6 separate regions of the Homo sapiens genome follow, and all the other regions are reported to be linked to region 4. The links are microRNA targets in miRTarBase. Many come from high-throughput screens and were not tested one by one. Region 4 holds a microRNA gene; each other region holds the end of a gene's coding sequence.
What was found. Region 4 holds the annotated microRNA hsa-miR-4265 (CUGUGGGCUCAGCUCUGGG, at 2,034-2,052, opposite strand). A microRNA usually pairs through its seed, bases 2 to 8, with sites in the 3' UTR of a target mRNA and lowers its output. Matches are read on the target gene's strand: a 7mer-m8 pairs with bases 2 to 8, a 7mer-A1 pairs with bases 2 to 7 and ends in A, and an 8mer does both.

Region 1: the mRNA of NLRP9 is a reported target of hsa-miR-4265. The part of its 3' UTR that is shown has no 7-base or 8-base seed match.
Region 2: miRTarBase lists PLIN3 as a target of hsa-miR-4265. Seed matches in the 3' UTR shown: 7mer-A1 at 1,629-1,635.
Region 3: miRTarBase lists UBE2D4 as a target of hsa-miR-4265. Seed matches in the 3' UTR shown: 7mer-m8 at 1,764-1,770 and 7mer-A1 at 367-373.
Region 5: miRTarBase lists HNRNPU as a target of hsa-miR-4265. Seed matches in the 3' UTR shown: 7mer-A1 at 3,009-3,015.
Region 6: the mRNA of SYNGAP1 is a reported target of hsa-miR-4265. The part of its 3' UTR that is shown has no 7-base or 8-base seed match.

What each region holds. Positions count from the first base shown.
Region 1 is chr19:55,705,101-55,709,204 of GRCh38, forward strand. It overlaps NLRP9 (NLR family pyrin domain containing 9), which reads right to left. Exons shown (of 9, transcript NM_176820.4): 9 at 3,338-3,944. The coding sequence ends at 3,812. It overlaps EPN1 (epsin 1), which reads left to right. Exons shown (of 11, transcript NM_001130072.2): 11 at 1-4,104. It also overlaps the pseudogene VN1R106P. Among named protein-coding and RNA genes, the nearest start is that of NLRP9, 31 kb to the right of the region's middle.
Region 2 is chr19:4,835,877-4,839,980 of GRCh38, reverse strand. PLIN3 (perilipin 3) reads left to right here. Exons shown (of 8, transcript NM_005817.5): 8 at 445-1,640. The coding sequence ends at 789. Among named protein-coding and RNA genes, the nearest start is that of TICAM1, 6.2 kb to the right of the region's middle.
Region 3 is chr7:43,952,177-43,956,280 of GRCh38, reverse strand. UBE2D4 (ubiquitin conjugating enzyme E2 D4) reads right to left here. Exons shown (of 7, transcript NM_015983.4): 7 at 145-3,631. The coding sequence ends at 3,586. It also overlaps the pseudogene POLR2J4. Among named protein-coding and RNA genes, the nearest start is that of UBE2D4, 28 kb to the right of the region's middle. RefSeq lists silencers at 1,483-1,532, 1,573-1,642.
Region 4 is chr2:109,139,467-109,143,570 of GRCh38, forward strand. MIR4265 (microRNA 4265) reads right to left here and starts at 2,122; the gene lies at 2,024-2,122. All of the region lies in intron 1 of SH3RF3 (SH3 domain containing ring finger 3), which reads left to right. It also overlaps a transcript of RANBP2 not described here.
Region 5 is chr1:244,850,590-244,854,691 of GRCh38, forward strand. HNRNPU (heterogeneous nuclear ribonucleoprotein U) reads right to left here. Exons shown (of 14, transcript NM_031844.3): 14 at 1-3,914. The coding sequence ends at 3,861. SNORA100 (small nucleolar RNA, H/ACA box 100) reads right to left here and starts at 3,628; the gene lies at 3,498-3,628.
Region 6 is chr6:33,451,320-33,455,319 of GRCh38, reverse strand. It overlaps SYNGAP1 (synaptic Ras GTPase activating protein 1), which reads right to left. Exons shown (of 19, transcript NM_006772.3): 19 at 1,631-3,560. The coding sequence ends at 3,414. ZBTB9 (zinc finger and BTB domain containing 9) reads right to left here and starts at 744. Exons shown (of 2, transcript NM_152735.4): 1 at 545-744; 2 at 1-290. The coding sequence starts at 219. It overlaps SYNGAP1-AS1 (SYNGAP1 antisense RNA 1), which reads left to right and starts at 915. Exons shown (of 3, transcript NR_174954.1): 1 at 915-1,050.

The sequences.
Region 1 (4,104 bases), not on the chromosome of region 4:
GTTGGAAGCCTCACTGGCCTGAGGTTTCTGAGTAAGCTCTGACCCAATCATTGACTATTAAACTTCAGAGGTCCATGGAGACCTCTTAGGAGTCTTTGAAGGAACTTAGCATAGATACCGATAGCTGCTGACTGCAGGGAGATGGGGAGATATGTTTTGTAAACCTGTCCAGGCAACTTTTTTGCCTACGGAAACACACAAAAACGAAAACAAACCAATGAAAAAAACCTCTCAGAACGATACAGAATCCAGAGCCACTACAACACATTTCATGAAGTGGCGTGAGCCTGTAATTCCAGCAGTTTGGGAGGCCGGGGCGAATGGATGACTTGAGGTCAGGAGTTCGAGACCAGCCTGGCCAACATGACAAAATCACCATCTCTACTAAAAATACAAAAATTAGTCATGCATAGTGGCATGCACCTGTAGTCCCAGCTACTCGGGATGCTGAGATGGGAGAATCGTTTGAGCCCGGGAGGTGGAGGTTGCAGTGAGCCGAGATCGCACCATTGCACTCCAGCATGGACAACAGAGCAAGACCCTTTCTTAGAAAAAAGAAAAGTATCCCCGAACATTATCAGAGTCAAGTTAATAAAGGCCAAAGGTAGAGAAAATCTTGAAAGTATCGAGAAAATGACATGTCAATCATAAGGTCAGGTTCTTCAACAGTCATACTGACATTGTGGCTGGAATATTTGTTGTTGTGGGATATATATATATATATATATTTAGAGTGTTGTGGGATATATATATATATTTAGAGACAAGGTCTTGCTCTATCACTAAAGCTGCATTGCAGTGTGTGATCATAGCTCACCATGGGATTCTTGATTTTCAGTGAGTATAAAGTGTAAGACAAAATAAGTCTTAGTTCAGGTATGCTGGATGGGAAGCCAGAGGTCTGCATAGCAGTTACAAAGAAGGCCTTATTATCTGGAAGAAAAGGGACCATAGAATGTCCATTGGTTGGGGAACAACCCAGCTTTAGTTTTTCCAGATTCTCTGCATGTGCAGGTTTATGAGACTGGAGAACTTTGATTTCTTCTTCCTCCTCCTCCTCTCTTTTCTTCTTCCTCTTCCTCCTTTTTCTCCTCCTTTCTTCCTTTATTTTTCTTTCTTCCTTTCCTCCTCTTTCTTCTCCTTTTTCCTCCTCTTTTCTTCCTTTCTTCTCTTTTTCTTCTTCTTTTTTTTTTTTTTTTAAAAGACCGTGTTTCGCTCTGTCACCCAGGCTGGAATGCAGTGGCGTACTGTTTTAGAAAAGTGAAAGAGGGCCGGGCGTGGTGGCTCATGTCTGAAATCCTAGCACTTTGGGAGGCTGAGGCGGGTGGATCACCTGAGGTTGGGAGTTCGAGACCAGCCTGGCCGACATGGCAAAACCCTGTCTCTACTAAAAATACAAAAATTAGCCGGGCATGATGGCAGATGCCTGTAATCTCAGCTCCTCAGTAGGCTAAGGCGGGAGAATCGCTTGAACCCAGAGGCAGAGGCTGCAGTGAGCCAAGATTGCAGCATTGCAGGAAAGAGAGAAAAAGGAGGGAAGGGGAAGGAAAAGGAAAGAAAGAAAAGAGGGGAAGGGAAGGGAGAGATTTAAAAAACAATAGTAAAGAGAGATTTAAAAAACAATAGTAAAGAGAGATTAAAAAAAAAAAGTAAATGGGCCAGGTGCGATGGCTTGTGCCTGTAATCCCAGCAGTTTGAGAGGCTGAAGTGGGAGGATCACTTGAAGCCAGGAGTACCAGACCAGCCTGGGAAACATAGTGAGACCCCGTCTATACTAAAAAATATTTAAATGGGCTGAGCGCGGTGGCTCAGGCCTGTAATCCCAGCACTTTGGGAGGCCGAGGCAGGCGGATTACCTCAGGTCAGGAGTTTGAGACCAGCCTGACCAACATGGCAAAACCCCATCTCTACTAAAAATACCAAAACAAAAACTAGCAGGGCATGGTGGCGCATGCCTGAAATCCCAGCTACTCAGGTGGCTGAGACAGGAGAATCACTTGAACCCAGGAGACGGAGGCTGCAGTGAGCCGAGATTGTGCCACTGCACTCCAGCCTGGGCGAGCAACAGAGTGAGGCTGTCTCTCAAAAAAAAAAAAAAAGGAACGGTAGTGTGCACCTGTGGTCCCAGCTACACAGGAGGCTGAGGCAGGAGCATCACTTGAACCCAGGAGTTCAAGGCTGCAGTGAGCTATGATGGCACCACTGCCCTCCAGACTGAGCCAAAAAGCAGACCCTGACTCTAAAACAAAAGAAAGAACAAATAACAAATGAAAATAAATACCCAAAAACCAGTCAAATGTGAAACTGGTGTCAGGGGTATGTTCTCCATGTTGAGCCCCTTCTGTGGAATATGACAGTGTCTCTATTTCGGGTAAAGGAAAGACCAAAATAACTTTCCAAGATGAAAAGCTAAGAGTGCTGATCTCATCACAGACATAGCCAGCTCTTCAGTTCAGACCACCTGGAAACCCTCCCCATGTCTTTTCAGAACAATGTCCTAAGAACCATAGGGGAAGTGGCCATAAAAACCATCTTTCCTTTGCAGACTGGGGTGGGGACTCTGGCCAATGCCATTCTGTTCTTCCATAATATCTTTCCCATCTTGACTGAGCATCAAATGAGGCCCACACACAAGATTCTCACCCACATGGCCGTGGCAAACTCCTTGGTTCTTCTTTCCACTGGAATCCCCCACACAATGGTGTCTTTTGTCCTATGGAAACCCTTGTCCAGTCTTGAGTGTAAACTCGTGTTTACAGGTCTTAAAGTCCTGACCTGGTGATCCGCCCGCGTGGACCTCCCAAAGTGCTGGAATTACAGGCGTGAGCCACCACTCCTGGCCTATGCCAGCATTCTTTAAAGTTGTGGGAAAAGGCCAAAAGCAAATAGAAAATTGGGCAAAAAAGTTCATAATTGCTTAAACATATGGAAAACCTGGAAGTAAAATTAAGCAAGTAAGTGCGAGCACTCTACATTGAAGATTATAGAAAATTCAGCCTCCCAAATATCCAAAGAATCCAGGAGTGTGCCAAGAGATCCAAGAGTAGGTCCACAATTTCTCATTCTCAGGAGAATCTGAGATTATATTTCAATCTAATGATAACTGATTATATAATCCAATTTCTGCATCATCTTGCTTTTATGTTTTGTAATAAAAATTTTAGACCAGGCCAATAAGGCATCAGCAATTTACCGTAGGGAACTAGGGAATGTTTAATTATGACAATGAAGTGTTTAATATTGTGTTTTGAAATATAAACAGTGTAGATATATTTGAATAATACTGAATTTTTAGAAAAATCTATTGGGGTGTCATATATAAAAGGATAAGTAGAGATTTGGAAATGCTTTTTTATTGGACAAGAAAATTGATCAAATCGAAATCTGGACAAACTAGAAAGTCTGGATGCTAGCAATACAATCTATAGACACATTCTAGCATCACTTCTGTGTCAGAAGTATCCGGATTGTGGTGCCTACAAATGCATGCTCCTACACACCAAGACATCCATTAAGAAAATAAAGCCATGCTTTCCAGAGCGTTTAGCACTTGTTTAACGTACTTGTGCTTCTAAATATCACAAGGCAGGATGGGATTTCTAAAGACAAGGGGATATAGGACCGAGGCAAAGACAATCAGCATGTACACTGAATCACACTCCATAATCATATTGCTAGAACACTTAGGGAGTACCTCTGAAATCACAGCCCTGCTGCCATGATGTGCAATTACAGGATAGAGGTGCCAGGTGAAGGTCCCACTGTGGCCAAGGAAAGCCTTTGTGAGACGACTACTTCAGGGTGTTCCCCATCAGAGGAGCACACCCCTGATCTTGTATTCCTCGTCAATCCAAGGTCCATGTGAAATGGTCAGATGGGGAATTTTTTCTTCCACAGACATCAGGATCTTCTGAGTTTCTTCATCAAAGCCAGATTTGTGCAGCCTGGGAAAATAGAAATAAAGTTTTTTTTTTTGTTTTTCATTTTTACACAGTATTGCCTCTCTACATTCTGATGTCTACCTCTCCTCTCCTCTTTATTCTTTCCTAGAAATCACTGGGAGAATTGTACTGAATTTGAAAAACAAGCATGAATCTTTCCTAT
Region 2 (4,104 bases), not on the chromosome of region 4:
AAAAAAAAAAAAAAAGGGCCGGGCACGGTGGCTCACGCTTGTAATCCCAGCATTTTGGGAGGCCAAGGCAGGCGGATCACGAGGTCAGGAGATCAAGACCATCCTGGCTAACACGGTGAAACCCCGTCTCTACTAAAAATACAAAAAATTAGCCTGGCGTGGTGGTGGGCGCCTGTAGTCCCAGCTACTCGGGAGGCTGAGGCAGGAGAATGGCGCGAACCTGAGAGGCGGAGCTTGCAGTGAGTTGAGATTGTGCCACTGCACTCCAGCCTGGGCGACAGGGCGAGACTCCGTCTCAAAAAAAAAAAAAAAAGTTTCGCCTATGGAAAGCGTTTGCCCCAAGGTCAGTGGTAGAACCCCTCTTCCCCTCTTTCCCTGGCTTCAGCTCCGATCGCCTTTCCTGAAACAAATGGTCCTGATTGGTGTCCCCATCTCCCTTCTCAGCAGGTCGAGTCCCGGGCGCTCACCATGTTCCGGGACATTGCCCAGCAACTGCAGGCCACCTGTACCTCCCTGGGGTCCAGCATTCAGGGCCTCCCCACCAATGTGAAGGACCAGGTGCAGCAGGCCCGCCGCCAGGTGGAGGACCTCCAGGCCACGTTTTCCAGCATCCACTCCTTCCAGGACCTGTCCAGCAGCATTCTGGCCCAGAGCCGTGAGCGTGTCGCCAGCGCCCGCGAGGCCCTGGACCACATGGTGGAATATGTGGCCCAGAACACACCTGTCACGTGGCTCGTGGGACCCTTTGCCCCTGGAATCACTGAGAAAGCCCCGGAGGAGAAGAAGTAGGGGGAGAGGAGAGGACTCAGCGGGCCCCGTCTCTATAATGCAGCTGTGCTCTGGAGTCCTCAACCCGGGGCTCATTTCAAACTTATTTTCTAGCCACTCCTCCCAGCTCTTCTGTGCTGTCCACTTGGGAAGCTAAGGCTCTCAAAACGGGCATCACCCAGTTGACCCATCTCTCAGCCTCTCTGAGCTTGGAAGAAGCCTGTTCTGAGCCTCACCCTATCAGTCAGTAGAGAGAGATGTCCAGAAAAAATATCTTTCAGGAAAGTTCTCCCCTGCAGAATTTTTTTTCCTTGTTAAATATCAGGAATATAGGCCGGGTGCGGTGGCTCACACCTGTAATCCCAGCACTTTGGGAGGCTGAGGCGGGCGGAACACCTGAGGTCAGGTGTTCGAGACCAGCCAGGCCAACATGGTGAAACCCCGTCTCTACTAAAAATACAAAAAAAAATGAGCCGGGCATGGTAGCAGGTGTCTGTTATCCCAGTTAGGAGGCTGAGGCAAGAGAATCTCTTGAACCTGAGAGGCGGAGGTTGCAGTGAGCCAAGATCGCGCCATTGCACTCCAGCCTGGGGGACAAGAGTGAGACTTAGTCTCAAAAAAAAAAAAAAAGAAAAAAAAATCAGGGATATAGTTCATATCCCACTTCTTTGTTTACACCGATGTCCCTGAATATCAGCCTGTAGCTAATGGACTTGGGATTTCTGGTCTAAGTGGGCCTCCTGGGGATGGGGTGGTACACTGAGCTTCTGAGCCTCATTGTAGAGTAGAAAGGTACTGGGGCCTGTGTGGTAAGCCTTGTTGAAATGCTCTGGTATTCAGTATTGCCTTAATAAACTTCACCCACAACTGCATACAGGCCATGTGTGTACGTGTGTGTGTCTTCATCTGTCCCTGCTGCTAGAACAGAAATATCTTAGGCAGGGTAATTTATTTATTCATTTATTTATTTTGTAGAGACGGGGTCTTGCTATGTTGCCCAGGCTGATCTTGAACTCCTGAGCTCAAGCGTTCCTCTCACCACGTCCTCCCAAAGTGCCTGGCCAGGCTGGGTAATTTATGAGCAACAGAAATTGATTTCTCACAGTTCCGGAGGCGGGGAAGTCCAAGATCAAGACACTGGCAGGCCTGGCACAGTGGCTCACGCCTGTAATCCCAGCACTTTGGGAGGCCGAGGTGGGAGGATCACTTGAGGCCAGGAGTTTGAGACTGGCCTGGGCAACATAGCAAGACCCCATCTCTACACAAATTTTTTTTTTTTAAGTTAGCCAGGCATGGTAAGGTGGGAGGGTCACTTGAGCCCAGGAGTTTGAGACTGCAGTGAGCCAAGATCGCACTACTGCACTCCAGCCTGGGCAACAGAGCAAGATACCATCTCGGAAAAAAATCCAAGTGACAATCTACAGTGTTTCTCTACGGTAGCTACAGAGAAGGGGAACTTCAGGGACTTCTCCCAGGGACATGGAGAAGATACATTCTCAGTCTTACTAAATACTGCTGGACTGTTGCCCAAATCATTGTCAGTCTTTTCACTCCCACCCTAAGTCCTGAGAGGGTTCATTTCCCCCATCACCAACCACATGTTACTTTCTCTTTGTTAATCCATATTCAAGTTGAATTCATATGCACCCAAGTATATGAATCTTAAAGGGACAGTTCAATGAATGTTACATAGGAATCCACTCCCTATAACCAACAGCCACAGGGATTACTGGTGCGTGCCCCACCATGCCCGGCTAATTTTTGAATTTTACTAGAGACGGGGTTTTGCCATATTGGCCAGGCTGGCTTTGAACTCCTGACCTCAAGTGATCTGCCCGCCTCGGCCTCCCAAAGTGCTGGATTACAGGCGTGAGCCACTATGCCAGCCTTTTTTTTTTTTTTTTTCGCTCTTTTTTGAGACAGAGTTGTACTCTGTTGCCCAGGCTGGGGTGCAGTGGTACTATCTCAGCTCACCGCAACCTCCACCTCCCAGGTTCGAGTGGTTTTCCCGCCTCAGCCTCCCGAGTAGCTGGGATTACAGGCGTGCACCACCACGCCCGGCTAAGGCTGGAGTACAGTGGCACGATCTCGGCTCACCGCAAGCTCCACCTCCTGGGTTCACGCCATTCTCCTGCCTCAGCCTCCCGAGTAGCCGGGACTACAGGTGCCTGCCACTACAACCGGCTAATTTTTTGTATTTTTAGTAGAGACAGGGTTTCACCGTGTTAGCCAGGATGTAATTTTGTATTTTTAGTAGAGATGGGGTTTCACCATGTTAGCCAGGCTGGTCTCAAACTCCTGACCTCAAGTGATCTGCCCACCTCGGCCTCCCAAAGTACTGAGGTTACAGGTGTGAGCCACCACATCTGGCCCCACCTCATCCTCTTGAGTATCTGGGAACTACAGGCGTGCACCACCACACTCAGCTAAATTATACACACACACACACACACACACACACACACACACAGATGTGGGTCTTGCTATGTTGCCTAGGCTGGTCTCAAACTCCTGGGCTCAAGCGACCTCCCACTCAACCTCCCAAAGCACTGGGATTACAGGTGAGAGTCACTGCACCTGGCTCTCACCCGATCTTTTTCCCAATCCCATCAGATAGATGCTATTATCTCCAGGGAAAATGAGGTGTAATCCAGAGAGCCCACCCTCAGCCCCACCTCAGCTACTAATAGCTGAGTAGTAATTTGAACTCAGGCCAGGCATGGTGCCTCACGCCTGTAATCTCAGCACTTTGGGAGGCCAAGGTGGGCAGGTCACTTGAGGTCAGGAGTTCGAGACCAGGCTGGCCAACATGGTGAAATCCCCCTCTCTATTAAAAATACAAAAATTAGCTGGGTGTGGTGGCACACACCTGTAATCCCAGCTACTGGGGAGTCTGAGGCACAAGAATCACTTAGCCCAGGATGCAAAGGTTGCAGTGAACCAAGATCACGCCACTGCACTCCAGCCTGGGCAACAGAGCGAGACTCTGTCTCAAAAAAAAAAAAAAAATTGGACTCAAAGAGTCAAGTTCTCTCCACGGTGCTTATAACCACCACATTTTAAGGTAGCAATGCCTGTTTTGGAATATCATACATGACACATATGTTGACTTGTGAAAGTGTCAAAGATATATTGACAATGGAATACAGTAAATTTTTTTTTTTTTGAGACGGAGTCTCGCTCTGTAGCCCAGGCTGGAGTGCAGTGGCGCGATCTCAGCTCACTGCAAGCCGCACCACCTCACAGGTTCACACCATTCTCCTGCCTCAGCCTCCTGAGTAACTGGGACTTCAGGCACCTGCCACCATGCCCGGCTAATTTTTTGTACTTTTAGTA
Region 3 (4,104 bases), not on the chromosome of region 4:
GGAGCCCAGCTGCGCACCTGCCTTCAAGGGGAGCTCTGATGCAGGCAGCTGGATGCCTGCAAGCACACCTGTCTGGGGCAAGGGAGAAGATAAGAAGGACAGGAAGGAAGTAGATGTATTTTTAAGGAAATCATTGACTTCTGATAGGGTGTTTTGCAGATTTTTTATAGCTTTTGTTTTTGTTTTTTTTTAGAAAGTTTCTCTGTCATCAGGCAAAGACCAGGGTGGGAACAGGAAAACTAGAAAACTGGTCAAGGGAGAACAAGTCCCTTTTCCTCTCACCAGTGAACAGCAGGTGAGGAAACAGACTCTGGGAGGAACGCTGTTCAGGATGGCTTGCTGCCTGCATGGCATGAGGCTGCTGTCTTGTGGGTGCTGGCAGCCACAATCTCCATTTTTCTGAAGACCACCATTTATGGCTAGATCCAGTAGAGGTCCAGAACTTTCCCAACACTGCTGGAGAGGAAGTGTTTCACAGTCAGAGGAGAGAGCCATGGGGAATGGAAGCAGGGGAAGAAGGGGTGGGGAGGGGAGGAGAGATGAGTGGCTCTATGCTAATCTTAGGGTTCCTTCTCTGCCCTTTTGGGTACCAGAGACAGACCCTAGGAAAGGAATTCTGCAGACAGTCTTGGAAGCACCTTCTCTGGCACTTAAGGCTTTTTCCCGAATTTCAGAGACAGAAACATACCCATCCTTGAGCAACTGCAGTGAGGCAGTGTGGAATTCTAGGGTGTTGATAGCTGTGAGCTACCAGGCCTGTTGGACATTTGCATTCTGGCATTTTAATTCCTTGTCCTAAGATTTTGACTCTTTGCCATGTTCTTGGAACTCCTGGATCTTTCTGGAGTCTGATAGCGGATCAAAATCTCAGCTCCATTCAGCAAACACAGACGCTTCTGGGGGAGAGCTAATGGTCATTTTTTCATCATGGATCAATTGTTCAAGATCAAGCACCTTTCTGATCACTCTTGTCCACAGAGAAAAAAACACATTACTCCACAGTTGGCTTCTCAGATTTGATGTCTAGTTGTCAACCTGAGACCTTCCTTGGAAGCATGGCTTCTGCACAAGTGGGTTACATTGACTGTACCACAGTGGCTCTTAAAACAAGGTTTTTGACCTAAGGAGCCTGTTCTCCAGGCTGACCTGAACCCCTCAAAGACATGGCAAGCAGGTGACATTTCTGCCCAGGGGATTTGCTGAGAGATCTGGAAGGTACAAAGCCACCTTAGGCTTCAATGGGTGAGTGAATTTTTACCACAAACCCCAAAGGGCTGATTTGACTTTCTCTATTATGTATATCCAACAGAGAGAGCAGGCTTGGGGAAATTTTGTCTGGACTCAGAAAATTCATCAGTTTCTTGGGAATCATCAGCTACTACACTTGAAAGACCAGAGTATGGTTATTCCCCAACACCAAGTTGGGCCTTAATTTTCCCATCTGACCTGTCTCTAACATGTGAATCAGTCCCACCTTCCCTGACCACATGAGTGAAGTGTTTCTGTGATGCTTGGCTGTAGATGCAGTGTGACAACTGCCTGAAGCACATGATCTCAGGCACCAGATGGCACTGCTGCTCAGTAGAGCCATATGCTAACAGCCTTCCTAGAGGACACTGGTAACAGCATTCTCCCCAACTATTAAGCTTTATTGTTTTGTTTAAGCAAAGACCAAAGAAGCAACGAAGATACAAGAATTAAAACAGCAATCCTTGCTGGGCACGGGGGCTCACGCCTGTAATCCCAGCACTTTGGGAGGCCAATGTGGGCGGGTCACTTGAGGCCAGGAGTTCAAGAACAGCCTGGCCAACATGGTGAAACACCGTCTCCACTAAAAATACAAAAATTAGCCCAGCATGGTGGCACATGCCTGTAATTCCGGCTACTTGGGAGGCTGAGGCAGGAGAATTGCTTGAACCTGGGAGGCAGAGGTTGCAGTGAGCCAAGATCGCACCACTGCACTCCAGCCTGGGAGACAGAGCAAGGCTCTGTGTTAAAAAAAAAAAAAAAAAAAAAAAAAAAAGGCAATCCTCAACATGGTGAGATGCAGCCACACCCAAAGAACCCCAAAAGGGGCCTTATGGTAGCAGGAGGATCCTAAATGTGGACCCTCACAAAGGGAATGCAGCCCAAGTTAAAAGTGCTTCTTCCTTTGTTAAGGAAGTGATTATGTGAATAACCTCAGTATTCTCAGTGGGAAAATATCTGGCAATAAATTTGTAGCCACAACTTGGAAGTTTCTGGAAGAAATCAACCTCCCACAGCCACCTTTGGCTGACTGCTTATGTTAGGTCTGTAGACTTCCTTTCAATCAGCCGGCAAAAGCCCCATCTGGCCACTTGGTCACAGTTTTACTGCTTCTTCACCTTTTGTTCCTATTCACCTACACATCACTTCCTGGAAGTGGACCAGCTTTATAACCAACCTAGAAAGATCAGGTTGAATTTGGCTTTAGAGATCTGAAGCTCCTCAATTTTCTTCCCTCTGTGGAAGTTTTATTAGAATAATCTCTTCCCTTTGTTGTCCTCTTCCTAACTAACCTAATCTCAAGGCTCAAAGCTTTAAAGGCAAATCTTAAAATGTGCTGCATCAGAAAGCCAAGGCAGAAAGCCGATCACCTAACAGGCTATTGTAATTTAAGGCTTCAAATAACTGTTAATAGTGTGTATCTTCTGTTTTGCCTAAAAGAAAGAGGCTGAAATGTCAATTATCATTTAGAGTTGTGAGTGAATTGCATTTTTATTTACGTTTAAGAGTCTCTCTCCCTCCTTGTGTTCTAGTCTGTGAATGGCTCACACTTGGACTTAGTGTAGGCTCCTATGGGAGGAGCGGGCGGTAGTGAGAATCTTCATCAAATGGAGTAACATGACCCAAATCTCTAGAGGTTTCATAATTTTGCTCTTGCTTCTAAAAACATAATCATCTCTTATGGGGTGTTATGTGCTTTGTATCCTGAAATTTTCCACTTGCTGCTTCTTGGTGTGAGGCGAGAAATGCCACCACGTGGCACTGCAGGAGGAGACTGGTGGAAGCCACAGGGCTAGGCCTTCACTTCCCAGTGACACTGTTCCCAATTCCCTCCAGGATAAGCTGAGACTCCTCAGGATGTGGTTCTGCAGCAGATGAGGTGCGAACAAAGCCTGCTCTGCCCTGGGCACCCAGGATGGCACTGAGTTCTAAAAGGCAAAGGGTATGTGGTGAGGGGCCAGGCTGAGGCCCTGGTGTGGTACCATCATGGGCAGCAGCACCATTTGAGGCCGGGTAGGAGAGACGTGCAGGGCCTGGCCCCCCAAGAGACCAGCAGACAAACTGAGGCGGCAGAGAGAGAGATTCCAGTGTCACCAGGAAGACTGCAGATCATAACAACAATGGTTGCTGATTTGGCATCAAAGAGGTGGCACTGTCAAAGCCGTAATTGCTGAAAATGGCACCAACATGCTGCAGCTGGAGAGAGTGGGTGACCAACATTTGTTTGAAGAACAGATGATGCTCTTTGAATGGCTCAGCCAACAGCCCAAAGTTTTAAGGGAAGACCTCTCTGCCAGCTTCTCTTGGACAGTGTCTCATGTAAAACCTCCAAGGCACTTACATAGCATATTTTTGTGTCCACTCTCTTGCTAGTCTGTTGTACCTGGAATAAAAAAGCAGAGGAAGTGACACCCTCACTTGAAATGGTCACTTCCCTTCAATGTGCTGCAGAGAACAGGACTGATGTGGGGAATGCTGCTGCTGCTGCTTGTCAAACATCTACGGCTGATGGGTGAGTGGAATAAAGGCTTTCCCTGGAGCAGGAGCACATCAGACATGGCTGTAAACCCCCAGCTGGGTGAACCCCTCATGTGTAAACCCCAAACTGTTGATTCTCCATAACTATCTGCTGTGGAAGATTTAATAATGCAACAGACTTCCTCCCTTTCTTTCTCCTGTCCTACAATATGGATGCAGGGAGGACAGAGAAGAGACACACAAAGGTCAGTTTGTACTAGTTACAGGCCGTCCAGCACACAAACTCCAGAACAAGGGCTTGGGAATCTGCCTACCGGGGTGTGCATCAGTACAGTCCTCAGCAGCTGTTCCGCCCCTCTGTGTCCTGGCTTTTTTGAT
Region 4 (4,104 bases):
TGAGCGGCATCCCCCTTGTGCCTTCTGTGGCTGAATTTGTGTTGTGGACTATAGCAGAGGGAAAACTTCCAATGCTAGAAATCTGAGTTTTAAAAATTAATTTAAAAATGTGTTCCTTATGGAATTGGGAGTGTATCTGCTGTCTCGGTTTGACAAACTAAGCTTTGACTTGTGTACAGTAACAAGAGTTTTCCTGGATTTAAAGTTGTTGTCCCCAGCATATCAAATGAGGTGACGTATATCAGATCCTGTGGTTGAGCCTCACAGTGCAGAAGGGCACCTGCTATGGGTCAGCAGCCCATTGAACAATGGAGTTTAAGACTTGCAGTTTTTGAGCTTTTCAATCACCTCTTTGCCAAAGACCAATGTGTCCATTGCTTGGCAGTTTGACATCTGGAGTCGTGTGGACAGGGGTCTACATCCAAAAGGCAGCGCCACTGGGGCTTAGTTTGTTCAGGTTTGTGTTCCTAGGCAGATGGAGGCTGTTTGTCTCAAATATAGCTGCTTTAAAAAAACAGGAGGGTTTATTGATCAGAGGTAGTGACTCATGACGTTGAAACTGTGCCTACATAACTCACATGACAAGGCTGGGGTGAAGAGGACAGGTCTGCGGAAGGCTTTCCACTTAGTCCTGGGAGGCCCCTTTTCCCTCTGTCCACCGTCCCCTCCTGCACCATCACTGTCACTTCTTTTCTGAAGGCTGCATTGATGCACATGGTTGGTGCATATGGGTCGATTGATGCACGTGGTTGCATGTGGTTGACGCACGTGTTTGGAGTTCTCTCTCTTCCTGAGATCAGCTGCATCCAGCCATGGACCTTCTCTTTTGCCGGTTCTTTGTGAATCATAAATCTACTTATAATGCCTTTACATACTGATGTTCTTTTTCTATTTTTCCCAGACTTCAGAAATTTCTTGCCTTTTTTTTTTTAGAGACGGAGTCTTGCTCTGTCCCCTAGGCTGGAGTGCAGTGGTGCGATCTTGGCTCACTGCAGGCTCTGCCTCCCAGGTTCACACCATTCTCCTGTCTCAGCCTCCCGAGTAGCTGGGACTACAGGCGCCCACCACCATGCCTGGCTAATTTTTTTGTATTTTTAGTAGAGACGGGGTTTCACCATGTTAACCAGGATGGTCTTGATCTCCTGACCTCATGATCCACCTGCCTCAGCCTCCCAAAGTGCTGGGATTACAGGCGTGAGCCACCATGCCCGGCCAATTTCATGCTTTTTAGATTTATGGGAAATAGAATTTTTTCCCTTCTGCAAAAGGCCTATGTGCTCTACACGTGGTTAATAGCCAGTCTATGCAATATGATTGATGTTAAAGGTAACATCTCCTCTGTGTCCCCAAACTAATCAGTGCCCCATCTTAGACTATCAACACCTACACAGTCTGGCCCCAGGGGTATCAGTTTTCCACTTGGTACTATCACTGCTGTAAACAACTTCATGGGCTGAGAAGCCCTTACTTTCATAACCCCCACCTTCCATCCGGGGCTGCTGTGAACTGGACAACCCTAAAGCATCCTGACAACCAGACTCCTGTTGGGCAGGCGGTATCTGGCTGGTGTGAGCCATTTACATCAGTTGTATTGAAGGGATCAATGCTATGCTGGGACCCATCCTTGGTGCTCATTTTAGTCGACTTCATCCAGGTGGAAAGATGCAACCACACCCCCCGGAGCCCAGGTTTCTGCGGATTCCTCTCTTTTGTCTCCCTTCTGTGCAGTTTCTGGCTCCATTTTTATTTGTTCAGGCTGTTTCAGTGACCCTTCCTCACTCTTCCCCTCTGTGGGCCGTGCGCATTCCTGGCAACCAGTGCTCTGTCGGCTTTTGCAGTTGCCACTGGCTGGCTTTCTGGAGGCAGCCTCTCGTCTCTGCCTGGGTCCCTCTTCCTCCAACTTGCTCAGTGATGAGTGGGGCTCAGAGCCTCACTCACAGGCTGCCCTCCGCACCGCGCCAAGCTCATGGGAGGGGCTCGAGACCTCTGCAGCACCTAGGCACATGCCTGCCTTTCCCAGTGACCAGGCCCAGCCCAGAGCTGAGCCCACAGCTGCAGAGATCACCAGTCCCCAGGCTGACCAATTCTTTACAGGTGTAGGCTGAAGCTCCAACCCACTGCACTTTTCTCTATCGTGAAATCGGATGTGAATTTAGGGTGCAGATCCCAGGAAGAGTGATGACGCCTGGGGATAACAGTGTGTCTTGACAGAAGAGTTAGGACCCAAAGCCAGCATCTCCCAGGAGAAAGCAAAATAGTCATTTTCTAGACCCCGGGGAACAAGTCTCCTGACAGTATCAACAGGAGGGGGTACTGGTTGGAGAAGGAGGTCAGGGTGACGGTTGTGTCCAGCTCAGCAAAGCCAGGTCCTCGCCTCCTTTCACCCATGGGACCCCCCAGATGTGCCAGTCTGCTGTCGGCTGCCTGCTTCTCCTACCTCCTGCAAGCTCTGCAGGTGGCAGGGCCCTTTCTACACTCACGGAAGTCTCAAACAAACTTCTGTGACACCTCCTCTGGTGTGTGGCCATCATTTCCAGCCCCCTGCCCAAGTCCTCTTCTGGGGTCCTTGAGTCTCCTGGGGGGGGGGTCTCAGGTATGTGCCTAGAACTTCTGCTGCAGCCCCTGGCCTGTCCCCTGGGCCCCACCCTGAGTCACCTACCGGGTGGGGTCCCTGAGCTCCTGGAGAGCAGCAAGGGAATGCTTCCCATGGTCCAGCCCCCTGGGCGGACTCTTGCGCCTTTGTGACTGGGTGAGCTGTGCATTTCCAGTTCTTTGCCAGCTGCCCCACCTCCCCACCCACATCCCTTCCATTGGTGTTCTCAGGAATAGGTGTTTACAGTCTTATTTTTTCTTAAAAATTCCCATGCATGTTATATTCTACTCTAAAATGTGCCTCCTCTGATTTTAATAGGACCCCAAAGCACCCTGTGGGGTTAGCTCCACAAACTTGGAATCAAATATGTGTCCCGTGACTTCTTCCCATTCCCTGGCCCCCAGCACCCACACAGGCACCCAGCTTGCAGGCACAGCGGCCGAGAGTGAGGGAGGGGCTGCCTCCTGGGCTCCCCAGGGACAACGGGGCACTCTGCTCTCCCCAGTGGCTGAGGGAGGAGGATTCTAGTCCTGTCACCAGAAGCCTCTCTGGGTTCTCTGGGGGCAGAACGCCTCTGCTTGGCTGCATCTTGGAGCCCTCCATCCTGGAGTCACCTGTGAGGTCAACTGAGCGGAGCATGGGCTGTCGGGCCTGGGTTTATTTTCTGATCGTTGGTGTCCTCTGGCTTCACCTGCCAAAGCATCGAGGATTGTTGTTGACTGATGGAAGTGCTATAGGCTTGTCGGTAAATGTGGGGAAAGGTGGCTGTCATTGTGGGACGTTTTCACTCTCTAAACTTAAGTGGGAAATTTCTGTCAGGTTGAGGAATTGTCAAGGATGTCGGCTTTCAAGGTGACAATTGTCGTGCTGACAGATACAGCACATGGGTGGTAGTGGAGTGCCGGGGGCTTGGGGCTGGTGTCCTGGCTGCTGGAGTGTGATTTGGCACTAGAGATGAGGAAAGGGAAAGTGCCACTGGGATGCTGGTATTCCTGGTGGTGTCCCTGAGCCCGGGAACCCAGTGTGGGGGGCCTGCCATGATGGCCACAAGGTAACCTCAGGAGGAACCTGGGAAACGTTTTATATTAAAGTTTTCATTTAATGGTCCATTCTGTTTGTCAAGTGGTGCATATAGAAAAATTGTGGCAGTTGCATGGAATTTCATTTGGAAACAAATTTAAATAAAAAGTGAGTCAATTTAAAGGAACTCATTAAGTAAGTATCGTGAAACTGAGGCTTGGAGGACCATAGTTTGGATAAAAAATGCCTTAAGTTGAAGTGAAATCAGAACCTCAAAGCGAGATGTGCAATCTCATGTTCATTTCAGCATTATTCACAGGGCCAATATCTGAAAGCAACCCAGATGTCCATCACCAGATGAATGATAAAGAAAGTGCAGTGGGCTGGGTGCAGTGGCTCATGCCTGTAATCTCAGAACTTTAGGAGGTCAAGACAGGAAGATCGCTTCAGCCCAGGAGCTTGAGACCAGCCTGGGCAACATAGCAAGTCCC
Region 5 (4,102 bases), not on the chromosome of region 4:
ATTACTGTTTTAGAGATCTCAGGTAGTTAACCAATTCTTGCTCAAAGCACTAATGTTCAGTCCCTCACCATTTATGCTGGGTATGAGTCCCAATGCATGGGTATTGCAACCTATTGTCAGGCCTTAACATGTATGTGTTTGCTTTTATTATTACTAAAATGTTAAAACTTAAACCCAATTATTCACCAAACTCTGAACACCTCAACCTCAGAGCTCCAGAATTAGGAATGAATGACAAAGTTTAGACTCTAATCATTTTAAGAATGTTAGGTGGGAAGAAATGGCTTCAGATGCAGTATTGTGTTCATCTTTCCAGGGGAACATCTCAAATGGGTATTCTGAAGCAGGTTGAGAAGTAGATAAAATTCTCTGCTACAAGTTCCATCCACTTTTTTTTTTTCAAGAGACCAGGTCTCACTATGTTGCCCAGGATGGTCTCAAACTCCTGAGCTCAAGTGATCCTCCCGCCTTGGCCTCCCAAAGTGCTAGGATTACAGGCGTGAGCCACCACACCCAGCCAAGTTCCATCCACTTTTGAAAACAAGACATTTATGTATAGGAAGAGAATTATGGAAACACTTTGTAAAACATCCATTTATTATATCCAATGCTAAACACTACCACTTGGACTCTAAGATATGTTTATGCCTCTCTGTTTATTCTAGTTTTTTAAAAATCAAATATACAAGATCTACAATTATTTATATCCAAGATGTCTACACCACTGCCTAAGAAGCTATTAAAATATTTGTATTTGTGCAATGGAACCCATTATTCACATGGTCCTAGAATAAAAAGTCAATTTATATTGTGAATAAATTTATCAAAAAACATGTCATCCAATTCCCACAAATGAGACATTTTAAATACAGAATACACTCTGTTCATGAATATAAAATCCCCAGGTGAAAGTCCCTTAAAACACTATTATGGTTATGTTTCCTAGAATAATTTTATAACTTTTTCAGAGAATTCCTTTAAACTTGTTAAAATACCTTGTTGCTAGTGCTCAGAACATCTAGGTTCAGTCTTTATTTTTAAGACAGTATCTATCCTAGGCAAATGAGAGCTTGTTTTTATGTATTTAAGAGTTTCCTCTTGTCATTTCAATGTCAAATTGATTTGACTCAATTTCATGATTTCATCTCGCTCAAGGCCATCAACCGGTCAGAGCCAGAGCCCTTCAAAGGCTGTATGTGAGTATATGAGGGAAAACTTTCCACATAATTTTACATCATTTCTATCTCATAGCAGTTTTAGTTTTCTCATAGCTATCTCATAGCAGTTTTAGTTTTCTCAAATTCTATGCTGTTTTTGTACTACTGCAGCTGACCAATCCAAAGCCAGTTTACACTCAGCATGTGTTATTCTACTTTAAAATATAACCTTAGTGAAAGCACCCTTCAAATCAACAGCAATCTCACAGTGAGTTTCCTCTGGGTAGTCAGGATTTGTCCAGAACTACATCCTTTTCAGATGTTCAGAGTTTTGCTTGCCATTAGGGAGGCAAGGGAAGGATGAGCAATAAATCAGGTTTCTCGTTCGTATCTTACTTCTTACCTAATTTTCTCCCTGTTGCTTATTTGGTACATTCCCTTCTCTGAATTCCTTAAACACTTTATAAGGTTATTTCTGCCATACAAGTGTAGACAATTGTATTAATTCTAGTCTTGACTAAAGATTTTAACATTTTTCTGGGTGCCATTTTTATCTATTCTCTCTCCCCCCAAATTCTCTGGGCTAAACAGGCATGATAGTCTACCTAGTGTTACTTGACCATTACTTTCCCACTGCAATTATAAAATGAATTCCTTAATAAGCAATTTTAAACTAGAAGATATATCCAAAACTTTTTAAAGGCACAAAGGACAACTTTAGGACACAACACTGATTAGCATCAAAACCTGAAACTGTTCCTCTAGTAAGTCTATGCAATCCTAATAATGTATACTGAAGAGTAGTAGCTCAGGCCAGTGGTTCTTAGCATTACTTGCTAAAAAAGATAAAAATCCATGACACTATCTTCAACTGTTAAATATCTTATGTTAACTAAGGATTTGCCTGTTCCAAAAATGTCTCAACTGAACCTATACATCACCTAAACTCCAGCTTATAGCAAGAAAATTCCTTAGAAGTATGAATTCATATTTATGATCTGATTTTAAAGGGCTAAAACAAAATTCTAAGCAATCAGAAATATAGCAAACCTAAACTTACCAAAGCAACCTAAAAACACCAAGGAAACGCTAGACTGAAGTCAAATTTTAGTTCTACAGTTTGACTCCTGATTCCTCACTTCACATTGGTGAGGGGAAGATTAAAGTGTTCTGTGCAAACCCAATATAATTACAATTAGGGGATCTAATGTTATTACATAGCTACAGTCAAGTTAGCAGTGTTGTGTAGCAGTGACATCAATGACTGGCTTGCATGATGGCTTCTAAAAGCATCTGATCCCAGAGTTTCATGTATCATATATATGTATATAAAATAATCAGTTGAGGACAGCATTAGCATTCTGTAAAGATGATAAACTCAGTGTTAACTTCTCCCAGCCAGTACCTTTTCCCCTCATTAAATATGTTAAAAGTTGTCTGGGGGGGAGGGGAAGGGAAGAATTCAACTTTACTTCATAATTATGTATCAATTGTCAGTATACATTTAAGTTTTTAAAACCTAAATGTTCTATGCAGAGTAAAGAATAAGCTGTCCAGAAAGCACACACTTAATAAATTTCTCCTCTTGGGAGTTATATAAAGGGATTTTGAACCTTGATGGCGAGAATCCCAAAACAAGAGTAAAATGAATTCTTTTTATTGCAAACAAACGTCTAAATTAATTTCTCCACCCACTTTCTTTAGAAAGAAAAAGAAATCAGCAGGCTAAGGAGATACCCATTCAAGAACTGACATGATTAAAAATTAAGATATAAATGGGTGACTCACAATTTCATTAGCTTACAAAGATGGTGGAGTTAACTACTACAAGCACACTAGTTATACAGTATTTTGTGGGAGAAGGGCATACAGACATGGCTAACTTCATATAGATCCCATTAGACAACTGGATTTACAACAAGTTTTTTTAATAAGAAATGGGCAAAGCCAGCTTTCTTTTCAGAATCAAAATGCAGAACAAATGGAAAAATTATGGTATTAACCTTCACAAGTTTGAGCCTCCACAAATAATGCAACCAAGTTTTACATTTTTAACAGCCCTTCTACATACACTCCATCTTCTCTATCTTAGTTCCAAGTTTTAGTTTTCAATCCCAATTATACCAATTCCATTGTTATTTTAAGAAAAAACCTTCCCAGTTATTGTCAGAAACTATGATTTAGCTTACCCCCTCCACTACCCAGCAAACTACAGAGAGGATGGAGTGTAATATGAGCAGTACAGAGTCTTAATGCAATTCATGAGGACCACTTAGTCCTTACATGAATCTGGTTGCTAACATTTCTATTATATTGTGACAATGACTCCCGACTGTTATTCTCTGTGAGAAATGGGGGGAGTAAATTCTTAATAAAAGACACCAGGTACAAAGCAACATTTTACTTCTGTTGTGATAAAAAAAAAAAAAAGTCACATTTTACAGATAAAATGTAGAACCCTGAAATACTGACACATTCTCTTATCGTGCACAATGCTGAGGTTCTCTTACGATTCACTTTTAAACTGCAATTAAAAATGTACAAAAAAGAAAAGAAAAAAAATCAACCCACAAAGCTTCTAAAAAAGGAACCCGCAGGCACTTCCTCTTGTGGAATGTTTAAAAAGTTAGCCTACTAAAGAAAACAGTCGACTTCTTGTGAAGGTTTTGGAGAAATATGTATCAGTTCGTTTTATTTGGGTATTCAATAATATCCTTGGTGATAATGCTGACTCCATGGCTTCTGACCCCAGAATTGCTGTAAGAGAAAATTTTGTTTTTAAAGAAAAAACATCAATAAGCCACTCAAACTGTTTTTAGGAAATGACAATGAATCTAATTCAGAGTAATTTGCTGGAAACAAATTTATACCTGTCATACCTCTGATTTCTACCAAACCAGATTTAGTTTTAATATCCCATAATTATCAATACACATTACAAAACG
Region 6 (4,000 bases), not on the chromosome of region 4:
GAAGTAAGGAGAGGCAGCAGCTAACACTGCTTTATGAGCCCTAAGTTCCCGGCCCTGCACCAGGAGGGACACATCACAGAACTTTCCCTCTAGCCTGTGGCGGTTCAGAGATTCCAGCAGAGACGAGCTATGCTGTGGGAACTCGATCTGGATTGTCCGTGGGGCTGGGTTGCAGGTCGGGGAGGCGGGTACAGGCGGCAAAGGTGTTGGGGTTTCCATGGCCTCCTCGAAGGTGACAAGAATTGGGAAGAGGAGAAGGGCTTGGGGGTAGACTCCACGCGGGATGAAGGCTGCAGAGGAAAAAGATGGAGGTCACAGAAGCCCTGGATAAAGGGAGCCACATCTTCTCAAACAACCCCCTCCCCACGAGCAATAACTGGAAACTTTTAAGTCAGTGGCGGTTTCTGCAAATCAGTCCCGCACACCAAGAAAGCAAAAACAAACAACAACAACAACCACCACCACTAAACACCAACAGGGGTTTTAACTTCCAGCCCCTGTGGAAGATAAGAAGGAGGTCCTTCAGCCACCAGCCTGCCTTCACCTGCCCAGAACAGCTCCTGCCCCGCCGCTCCGTTCCGCCTCACAGTGCCCACAGAGGTCTGCTCCCGGGAAGCCGCGGTCACCCGGACACCGCGAGTCCCGGCCCGATTGTCCTTCCCGCCGACACGCCCCCGCCGTTACACACGCGGCGCTGCCCTCGCAGTTACAGTGCCGCTACAGCTCCGTCCCAGACCGGAAGCCGCCGCCTCCCCGCCGGACACCGTCGCCAAGTGCGGCGGGCGGAGCTAGAGCCGTAGCCAATCGAGGAACGGCAGCCTACAAGCCTCGTGTTGATTGGCTACTGCAGACGAGGAGGGCGGTGCTAGTAGGAGGGCACAGGCCCAGGGTGTCCTCGCAACGGGCGTCCCGGGGAGCTGCTGAAGTCCTCCCCGCTGCAGAGGACCGAGAGGCAGGGCCCGGGAGAGAACAGCCCGGTCGGAGGGGGTGGGCCGTCAGCCGCCCCGGAAAGCTGCGTTTCCCGGTGATTAAGTGTAGCACCCGCCCCCGGTAGGTCCTGAGAGGGGCGAGATTAGTTGGGTACTTACCATGTGGGCCTGGCACTTGCCCACATCACTTTGTGTCTTCCCACCGGCCCTGCGAGGGTGGGGGTTGCCGTCCTCAGTTTCCAGGCGGGGGAAACGGGCTGGAAGCGTCACTCAGCTAATAGTAGTGGACCTGGGACTGGAACTCAGATTTGCTAAGGAACCAGGCAGGTTCTTTCCTGTTTTCTGCACGGGAGCATTTTAACCAGCAATTAAAGAAACCTTATTTCTAGGTAATTTTTAAAAGAGATAAATGTGGATATATACATGAACTCTTTTATCAGATAACGCCGCTGTTCCTGGCCTCGGACTAAGTGACACAGTGGTGAGGGGAGAGTTAGATTGGAGAAGTTTGGCCGGTGCAAAACTCCTGCTCTAAAATATAAAAAATCTCATTGGGAGGGGAGAGTGACATTCTATGAGGAGAGTGTGGCATCAGGTGGGGATATACGGTTTTCCTCTCAGGCTGTCAGCTTCCTTTCAGAAAGCAGATCTTACCACCGTACAGGTCTGGAGAGCCCTGCCTAAGAAAGTCGGCACAGCGATAAAAGAACAATCTCCGTTTATTAAACATGTTTTTTTCTGTTTCACCACACACTCCAGAAAAAAAGGAAATGGGGCTGGGAGTGGAGAAAAGGGGACAGTGAGGGGGGATAGATAAGGCTGGGAGTGGGGTGGGGAGGGAGAACGAGAAAACAAAATAAAACAGGTAGGAAGAGCAACTCCCTACCCTTGAGGTGGTGGGTGGGGAGGGAAGCAGAGGGGCGGGGGGGGAGGGGGCCAGGAAGCTCTGTACAGAAGGGTTGCCCCCAGCCCACACACACACACCCCGGATATGTACAGTACAAACCCCAGATAATTACAACAGCCAAAGAAGAGAGAAGGAAGGTTGGGGAGGGTCCAGGGGTAGGGCCTGAGGTGGGGAAAGGGCACAGGGATAAAATTTCACATATTTACAACTTTTATATAAGTATAAATTTGGCCCCGGCTGGGTGTATGTGTAGGGGGATGGGACTGAAGGGGAACTGTCCATACAAAAGAAAGAGGAGTAGAGTCTAGGAGAGTCTCAATACCAAACGCAAAAGGATGAAGGGGGCAAGGCTGGGTAGGGGACAGCAGTCAGGGAAGAGGGGGTGCCAAGGAGGGGCTTCTCCCCTCCCATGGCCTACCCACCCCAAACCCCATCCATCCTACCTCCCCTATCCCGCCAGAAAACTATGTACAGAGAAACACCGAAAAATCGTGGAGCTGGCGGGAGGGAGGGAGGTGGAAGGAGATTGGGAGGGGGAGGATGAGAGGGAAGCCCAGCCCTGTCCTACCTCCCCCAGGGGACAGAGTCATGGAAGGGGGCCCCCCAACACCCCTCCTCCAACACAGGTCCCCCCACCCTGGGGGAGAGAGACATGGCTTTTCCTAGAGTAAGTTCCCCCCTCCCCCTGGGAGTAGAGACCAAGAAGAGAGAAGGAAGGGGCAGAGGGGACTGTGTGTCAGAGTAGGACAGATCAACTAGCCTGTCCTCCCAACATACACACCCTCCTAAACCCTGACCCCTCACCCTAACCTCAATTCCACCCCACCCAACACACTGGGGGAGGGGGGGGCATAAGCCCCCTCACCCCGCTCTGGGACCAGCCGAGAGCAGATCAGGTGTGGGGAGAAGGGGAGACAACTCCCATTCCCCCCTTGCCGCCCCCTCCCTGCCCCGGTGGCCCCCTCCACCCCATCTGGGTTCTGGGTGGGGAGGGAGTAAATTTAAGAGTGGTAGAAGGAGAAGGAGTTTGTGCGTGCTGAGCCCCCCCAGACGCTCCTGAGAAATCAAGGGGTAATAGGGCCCCCTCACCCGGGGTCCCCTCCCCATAACAAGGGGGGCAGGGGAGGCCAAAATGGGGCGGTGGAGGGGAGTTAGATTGTCAGCTCTGGTTACTGCTAAAAAAATCACCCTGAAGTTGAAAGTTTGGAGGTGCCACACCCCCAGGGTGGGGGTGAGGGTCTGTCCCCCAGTGCTCAGGGGAACGATGAGGCAGAGGATGGGGATAGCACCCCGGAGTGAAGGGGTCTGTACGGGGTAGGCGGTGTCCTGGGGCAAGGGTCCCTGGGGGTCAAAGAGAGGGCAGCACCCCAATGGGAAGGAAAAGGGGGCGGCTGAGGGTCCCCACTCTCCCTCCTGGAAATGGTGCAGTGGTGGGGGTGGGCAATCAGTGTGCCTCCCAGGGAGGCATTCGGGGAGGCAATCCCGCTGTTCCTCGGTGATGTCCAATCCTGGTGGTTGGTGCTGTTACAGGGTGGGGTGCACAGGAAAGGAAGAGAAGGTCTCTGATGCTGGGTGGGCTAGTGGTCTGCGGTGTTTCGGAACTCGCCGTTCTCCGTAATCTGCAGCCGGGGTGGGGGTGGTGGGGCTGGGGGGGCCAGGCCATTCCACGGTGGGGCCAGCGTCACACGCGGGTTTGTTGGACCCAAGGGGGGAAGCTGCCTCTCCTGCAAGACACCAAAAAGGAGAGCGCGGACTTATTGAGACGCTTCAAGGGGGCCTGGATGCCAGTCCCCTAGCAGTGGCCTCCCCTATAGCCAGCCCACACCACAAGCCATGGACCACCCCCTCCTCCCAGGACAGTCCCCACCATCCTCCTATTTTGTTTCTCACCTGCAGTAGAAGTTAACGTCCTCTGGGATCAGAGAGAAGAGAATCTCACCCCTAGACTCCTAACAGGGGCCTTCAAGCCTTTAACCCAGAGTGTCACACCAGGAAACCAGATCAAAACAGCAAGTTCCCACCGCACCCCCAACCTAACCCTTCTCTGGCTTCACCTGTGTATATTCCTTGCCCATCCCACCCTCCTCCTCTTGAAACCCCCTCCCACCCATCCCCAATCCGAGGTGGGAACTTCATGTTGAGGAATAAGGGGAGGCAGTACAGC